2 linked regions of the Homo sapiens genome follow. The protein of the gene in region 2 purifies or fractionates together with the protein of the main gene of each other region. This does not show direct contact. Each region holds a gene or a part of one and is shown on either strand. Other genes may lie near its edges.

Region 1 (3,500 bases), on a different chromosome or scaffold from region 2:
GAGGTCCTGAGTCTGTCCATGTAATAACTTCAGTGCTAGTATAACTAGCATTCAAGACAACCAGTACACTAAATAAAACTACAACCAAGTACTCTCACACAGTCCACTTCACTCCTTTCCTACCACCTCCATTAGAGCAGGTGCTAGTATCCATGGCATACAGACCTGAAGACAGATCACATCACAGGACTCTTAGCAGACACTCTCCAGTACCAGCCTAGAACCCAGTAGCTCTGCTGGGTGGCTCGACCCAGAAGAGCAATAACAATCACTGCAGTCCAGCTCTCAGAAAGCCCCACCCCTAGGGAAGGGGGAGAGCACCACACCAAGGGATCACTCTGTGGGACAAAAGAATTTAAACAGCACACATTGAGTCCCAGATCTTTCTTCTGACATAGTCCACCCAAACGAGAAGGAACCAGAAAAACAATTCAGGTAATATGACAAAACAAGGTTCTATAACCACCCCTAAAAGATTATACTAGCTTACCAGCAATGGATCCAAACCAATAATAAATCTTTGAATTGCCAGAAAAGAATTTAGAAGGTCAATTATTAAGCTACTCAAGGAAGCACCAGAGAAAGATGAAAACCAACTTAAATTTAAAAATAAAACAAAACAGGATGTAGACGAAAAAAATCTCCAGAGAAATAGATATCATAAATAAAAAACAATCATGACTTCTGGAAATGAAAGACACATTTAGAGAAATGCAAAATACACTGGAAAGTTTTAACAATAGAACCAAACAAGTAGAAGAAAGAATTTTGGAGCTCAAAGACAAGGCTCTTGAATTAACCCAATTCAACAAAGACAAAGGCAAAAGAATAAAAACTTCTCTGGCCTTGCTCGAGATCTAGACATCCAAATACAAGAAGCTCAAAGAACACCCAGGAAATTCATCACAAAAAGATCATCACCTAGACACACAGTCATCAGGCTATCTAAAGTCAAGATGAAGGAAAAAATCTTAAGAGCTGGGAGGCAAAAGCATCAGGTAACCTGTAAAGGAAAAACCTATCAGATTAACAGCAGATACTCTACAAGCTAGAGGGGATAAAGGTCTTATCTTTAGCCTTATTAAATAATTATTAGCTGACAAAATAATTATCAGCCAAGAATTTTGTATCCAGTGAAACTAAGCTTCATAAATGAAGAAAAGATGAAAGTCTTTTTCAAACGCTGAGAGAATTTGCCACTACCAAGCCAGCATAGTTTACAAAAACTGCTAAAAGGAGTTCTAAATCTTAGAGCAAAACCTTGAAATACACAAAAATAGAATCTCATCTCATAGTGGGGGACTTCAATACAGTAAGTCAACATAGAAACAATGGACTTATACCCTAGAACAAATGGACTTAACAGGTATTTACAGAACATTCTACCCAACAACTGCAGAATATACATTCTATTCATCAGAACATTCATGGAACATTCTCCAAGATAGAGACCATATGATAGGCCACAAAACAAGTCTCAATAAATTTAAGAAAATCAAAATTATATCAAGTACTCTCTCAGACCATAGTGGAATAAAATTGGAAGTCAACTCCAAAGGGAATTCTTAGAACCATGCAACATTAAATAATCCGCTCCTGAATGATCTTTGGGTCAATAATGAAATCAAAATCAAGCTGGAAATTAAAAAAATTCTTTGAACTGAATGAAAAAAGTGACACAACCTAACAAAACCTCTAAGATACAGCAAAAGCAGTGCTAAGAGGAAAGTTCACAGCATTAAGTGCCTACATCAAAAAGTCTGAAAGAGCACAAATTGACAATCTAAGGTCACACCTCAAGAACTAGAGAAATAAGAACAAACCAAACCCAAACCCAGGAGGAGGAAAGATATAACAAAGACCAGAGTAGAACTTAATAAAAATGAAACAACAACAACAAAATACAAAAGATAAATGAAACAAAAAGCTGGTTCTTTGAAAAGATAAACAAAATTGATAGCCCATTAGTGAGATTAACCAAGAAAAGAAGAGAGAAGATCCAAATAAGTTCAATTAGAAATGAAACAGGAAATATTAACAACGAATACCACAGAAATACAAAAGATCATTCAAGGCTACTATGAACACATTTGTGCTCACAAACTAGAAAACCTAGAGGAGATGGATAAATTCCTGGAAATATACAACCTCCTAGATTAAACCAGGAAGAAATAAGAACTCTGAACAGACCAATAACAAGCACTTAGATTGAAATGGTAATAAAAAAATTGCCAAGAAGAAAAAGTCCAGGACCAGATGGATTCACTGCTGAATTCTATCAGACATTCAAAGAAGAACTGGTACCAATCTTACTGAAACCATTCCAAAAGAGAAAGAGGGAATACTCCCTAAATCATCCTATGAAGCCAGTATCACTCTAATACCAAAACCAGGAAAGGACATGACAAAAAAGAAAACTACAGACCAATATCCCTGATGAACATAGATGCAAAAATCCTCAACAAAATACTAGCTAACCAAATCCAACAGTATATCAAAAAGATAATCTACCATGATCAAATGGATTTCAAACCAGGGATGCAGGGAAAGTTTAATATACACAAGTCAATACATGTGATACACCATATAAACAGAATTAAAAACAAAAATCAGGCCGGGTGCGGTGGCTCATGCCTGTAATCCCAGCACTTTGGGAGGCCGAGGAGGGCAGATCACTTGAGGTCAGGAGTTTGAGACCAGCCTGGCCAACATGGTGAAACCCCATCTAAAAATACAAAAATTAGCCAGATGTGGTATCTCAGCTACTTGGGAGGCTGAGGCAGGAGAATCCCTTGAACCTGGGTGGTGGAGGTTGCAGTGAGCTGAGATGGTACCACTGCACCCCAGCCTGGGCAACAAGAGCGAAACTCTAAGAGAAAAACAAACGAAAACACATGATCACTTCAATAGAAGCAGAAAAAACGTCTGACAAAATCCAGCATCCCTTTATGATGAAAACACTCAGCAAAATCAGCATAGAAGGAACATACTTGAAGGTAATAAAAGCCATCCATGACAAACCCACAGCCAACGTTATACTGAACGGGGAAAAGTTGAAAGCATTCCCCATGAGAACTGGAAAAAGACAAGGATGCCCACTTTCACCACTTCTATTCAACATAGTAGTGGAAGCCCTAGCCAGCCACAGTCAGTCAGAAAAGAGAAATTAAAAGGCATCCAAATTGGTAAAGAGGAAGTCAACCTGTCACTGTTAGTAAATGATATGATTGTATACCTAGAAAACCCTAAAAACTCATCCAAAAAGCTCCTAGATCTGATAAATGAATTCTGTTAGGTTTCAGGATACAAAATCAATGTACATAAATCAGTAGTACTGCTATACAGCAACAGCAAACAAGCTGCAAATCAAATCAACAACTCAACCCCTTTTACAATAGCTGCAAAACCTAGGAATATACCTAACTAAGGAAGTAAAAGACCTCTACAAGGAAAACTACAAAACACTGCTAAAAGAAATCAGATGACACAAACAAATGGAA
Region 2 (4,252 bases):
TATAAATTTCTCTTTGGCCAGGCACGGTAGCTCACGCCTGTAATCCCAGCACTTTGGGAGGCCAAGACAGGCAGATCACCTGAGGTCAGGAGTTCGAGATCAGCCTGGCCAACATGGCGAAGCCCCATCTCTACCAAAAATACAAAAAAAATTAGCCGGGCATGGTGGCACGTGCCTGTAATCCCAGCTACTCGGGAGGCTGAGGCAGGAGAATTGCTTGAACCCAGGAGGCAGAGGTTGCAGTGAGCAGAGATTGTGCCATTGCAGTGAGCCGAGATCGTCCCATTGCACTCCAGCCTGGGCAACAACAGCAAAATTCCGTCTCAGAAAAAAAAAAAAAAATCTCCTTTTTATGATATTTGTACAGATTATCTTGGATAATGTTCATGTGTGTATCTATAATATATTTATACATATTATTATATGTATATATACCTATATGTATAGATATATGAATGAATGTGTATACATGTCTATATCAATCTCAAGCCAGGCACTTTCACACTATTCCTTTCTTCAAAGTCCAACAAATCTTGATGTGAATTCTGTACAATGGCATAACCTGCCCTAATTTATAATGTATACATGATGGTTAATTTTACATGCTAATTTGACTGGTCATAGATTGCCCGGATTAAACATTATTTCTGGTGGTATTTGTAAGGGTATTTCTGGTTGTATTTGTAAGGGTGTTTCTGGTTGTATTTGTAAGGGTGTTTCTGAAAAAGATTAGCACCTGAATAGCTGGACTCAGTAATGGCTACCTCTCCAAAGCTTGCCCTCCCCCAAGTTGCTGGACATCATCTAATCCATAAAGGATCTGAGTAGGAGAAAGGGTTGAGGAAGAAGATATTTGCTTCTTTTCCTGCCGCAGTACTTGAGCTGAGACATGTCACCTCATCTTTTTCTGCCTTTGTACTGGCATTTATACCATCAGCTCCCTGGTTCTTAGGGCTTCAGAGACACACTGACTTATATCACCAGCTTTTGGGTCTCTGGTTTCCAAATGGCAGATAATGGGAAGTCTTAGCCTCCATAATCAAGTAAGCCAATTCCTCATAATAAATACATATCTCTTATTGTTCTGTTTCTCTGGAGAACCCCGACTAATACAATATATTTCTTCAAGAATGTTTTGTGTCTTTGCTATCCTAGGTAGTTCTACTACTCATCCTGTGTTTGAAAAAAGACTTAAAAAAAAAAAAAAAGAAAAGTACCTAGGATGGTAAATGCAATGGTACACACAAGTGTTTCATTACGAGAAACAGATCTGAACAGCATAAGGCTGTCTCTTATCAAGGACAGCTGAGCCTAGACATGACCTTCTTTACTGGACATATGGAAACTCATATTATCTGCAGCAAGATTTTGGAAACTGAAGAATGAGACTTCAGTAGAGCCAGCTATTGTTTTATTGAAGCAAAAAGAAAACAGAACAAAAACAAAAAATTGTTTCCCAAGACATTGAAATGGCTGACATCTTTTCAGTAATAATCAGAACAATATTTATTTTTATATTTAAAATTCATAGAAAAGTGCCTTACATTTAATAAAAGTTTGTTTCTCAAAGTGATCAGAGGAATTAGATATAGTCTTGAACACCAATATTAATTTGAGGAAAATACACCAAAATACATTAAGTAAATTATTTAAGATCATAGAGCTTGTAAGTGAAAAGATAAAATTTGACCTCAGAAACTCTGAGCATTAAAAATCCACTATTAGCAAATAAATTACTATGGACTTCTTGCTTTAATTTTGTGATGAATATGGGGTGTCACTGGTAAACCAACACATTCTGAAGGATACATTACTTAGTGATAGATTCTTATGTACTTTGCTAGATAACGTGGATATGAGTTGACAAGTTTCTCTTTCTTCAATCTTTTAAGGGGCAGAGGAAATGAGGAAGAAAAGAAAAGGAATTACAGCAATACTGTTCTTTCTATAGGAAGGATTAGATATGTTTCCTTTGCAAATATAAAAAAAATAATAATGTTTACTACTAGTGAAACCAAGGTATTAGGAAAATAATGTACAAGCATCTCTTGCAAGAAAGGGTAAGATTGTTATGAGTGAAATCGTGCCTTCCTCAAATTTATATGTTGGAGTTTTTATTCCCAATACCTCCAAATATTATCTTATTTGGAAATAAGGTCTTTGTAGAGAATATAATGTTAAAATGATTTCATTAAGGCATTAGCGGTGGGCCCTGAGCCAGTATGACTGGTGTCTTAATAAAAAGGGAAAACTTGGGCACAGAGATGTACATAAAGACAATGTGAAGAGTCATAGGGACAAGATGCCTTCTACAAGCCAAGGAGAGAGGCATGGAACAGAGCCCTTCCTTGCAGACCTCAGAAAGAACCAACTCTGCTGGAATCTAGATTTGGGATTTCCAGCCCACAGTACGGCAATACAATTACAGTTTAAATCAGCAATCTATGATGCTTTGCTATGGAAGCCCTAGCAAATGAATACAAAGACATTCTAAGTAAAAGAAGGGGAAAGAAAGGAAGAGATGGTCTCAGTAGAGATGAACTCAGGTGCAGAATCTGAGTCTCAGCACAAGGGCTACTATGCAGAAGTGGGTAAAGGAATGAGAACACTCAGGAGCTCGGTGGGCACACAGTCATGGGGACTAGGCAGTTCCAAGGATTGAAATACGGATAAGCAGGTCGAGAAAAGCGACATCCAGAGAACTTGTAGATGAGTGCTCCGTGGTTTGTGACATTGAAAAATGAGACAATGCCTGCCTCATAGTCTAGGAAAACCCCAATACGACAGGGAGGCACAGCCATAAAGAGAGTCAAAACCTTGGGATCAGAAGAGGAGGAGTCCTCAAAAGCATTATATTCACATGTATTCTGTAATCCTATAACCCAGTAGCCATATTGAGGTCTATATCTGGAGTAAACTTTTGAATAATTTACACTTGGATCAAAAGCAAACCCAGAGCTCTTCCTTTTATTCAGACTACTTATTTTACTGTGTACGCCCAGGATCCAGGCAATCTTTCCAGACACATCTACTTCCCAGTAATATTTCCCCGAAGAGAAATATTGGCAGCCGAAGACACCAAAAGCAGAAAAATCACATGGATTTGAATTCTTAAATGTGCAGGTGCGTACAGTTTTCACTTGTCTCTGATCCACAGAAATAGCAACATTCGAAGTGGCACTGCCTGGATTCAGCATCACGTCCACTGTAGAAAAAATTACCAAGTCAAGTGAAGGATATGGGATAGGTGTGTCTTACAGCATTGAGAAGAGACATATTGAAAATGAAACTTGTGTCGATATCAAACGGAACTTGTGTTGATAGTCAGAGGTTAGTAGGACCCTTAAGAAATACAGGGTGTAAGACTATAAAAATTAGCCAAGCGTGGTGGCACACGCCTGTAATCCCAGCTACTTGGGAGGCTGAGGCAGCAGAATCGCTTGAACCCAGGAGGCAGAGGTTGCAGTGAGCCGAGACCGCGCCATTGCACTCCAGCCTGGGCAACAATAGCAAAAATCTATCTTAAAAAAAAAAAAAAAAAGAACTACATGGTTTAAGCATGTTTGGGGAGGAACACATGAGACTCAGATTATGAGATCTAATAGTAACCACAATTCTGAAAGGAAGTGATTTGAAAACCCCATATCATCTTACCCCAGTAGTACTGGACATCTGTCAGCTCTGAAACGACAAAAGTTTCAGTGATGTTGTTAGAAGCAAATAAGTAAGTACTGACACCTGTCTCTTCTCCAGAGTAGGGAAAGGAAAGGGGGAATACTGGGATTCTTTGCACTGGTGAATGAGAGGATGAATCAGACACCTGGTCATTCCCCCTAAGACAGGACCACATCTACAGCACAGGATTTTCCTCCTTCTCTGGCCCACCTCCTCTCCTATATCCTAACCTAAAAAAACCTCCCGCTTCCCTATTGAGCCCTGATACTAAGAAATCCACATTCACAGCCTTCCCCTGAATCCCCTTACCTTTAAGAACTTGCAGCATCCCACTCAGATCTGGTACTCGGAATACACTCTTTAGTTTCTTGGAAACAGATTTTGGCTTCTTCAATGTCCAGCTTTCACTCCTAGTGATAACAAAAATTGATAACCTTTACACCTTTGCCCTATTTCTCTCCATCCAAGATCACTGTCTCTTTCACCTTTCACCATACTTGCTGACGCACTTGGACCCTCTTCCCTGAGGACAGTAGAGGGGAGATGCCTGACACTGGAGTCCAGAGAAATGTGCTCA

What was found. The genes of interacting proteins can lie anywhere in the genome.
Region 1: the proteins of TRIM22 (region 2) and DTL purify together in Homo sapiens (affinity purification with western blotting; one study listed by BioGRID). This does not show direct contact.

What each region holds. Positions count from the first base shown.
Region 1 is NC_000001.11:212,094,748-212,098,247, reverse strand, and holds part of DTL (denticleless protein homolog), read right to left. Parts: intron 1-3,500. UniProt on the Homo sapiens protein: Substrate-specific adapter of a DCX (DDB1-CUL4-X-box) E3 ubiquitin-protein ligase complex required for cell cycle control, DNA damage response and translesion DNA synthesis.
Region 2 is NC_000011.10:5,708,006-5,712,257, reverse strand, and holds the end of TRIM22 (E3 ubiquitin-protein ligase TRIM22), read right to left. Parts: intron 4,086-4,252; coding exon 3,985-4,085; intron 3,682-3,984; coding exon 3,655-3,681; intron 3,206-3,654; coding exon 2,610-3,205; 3' UTR 1,395-2,609; downstream 1-1,394. UniProt on the Homo sapiens protein: Interferon-induced E3 ubiquitin ligase that plays important roles in innate and adaptive immunity.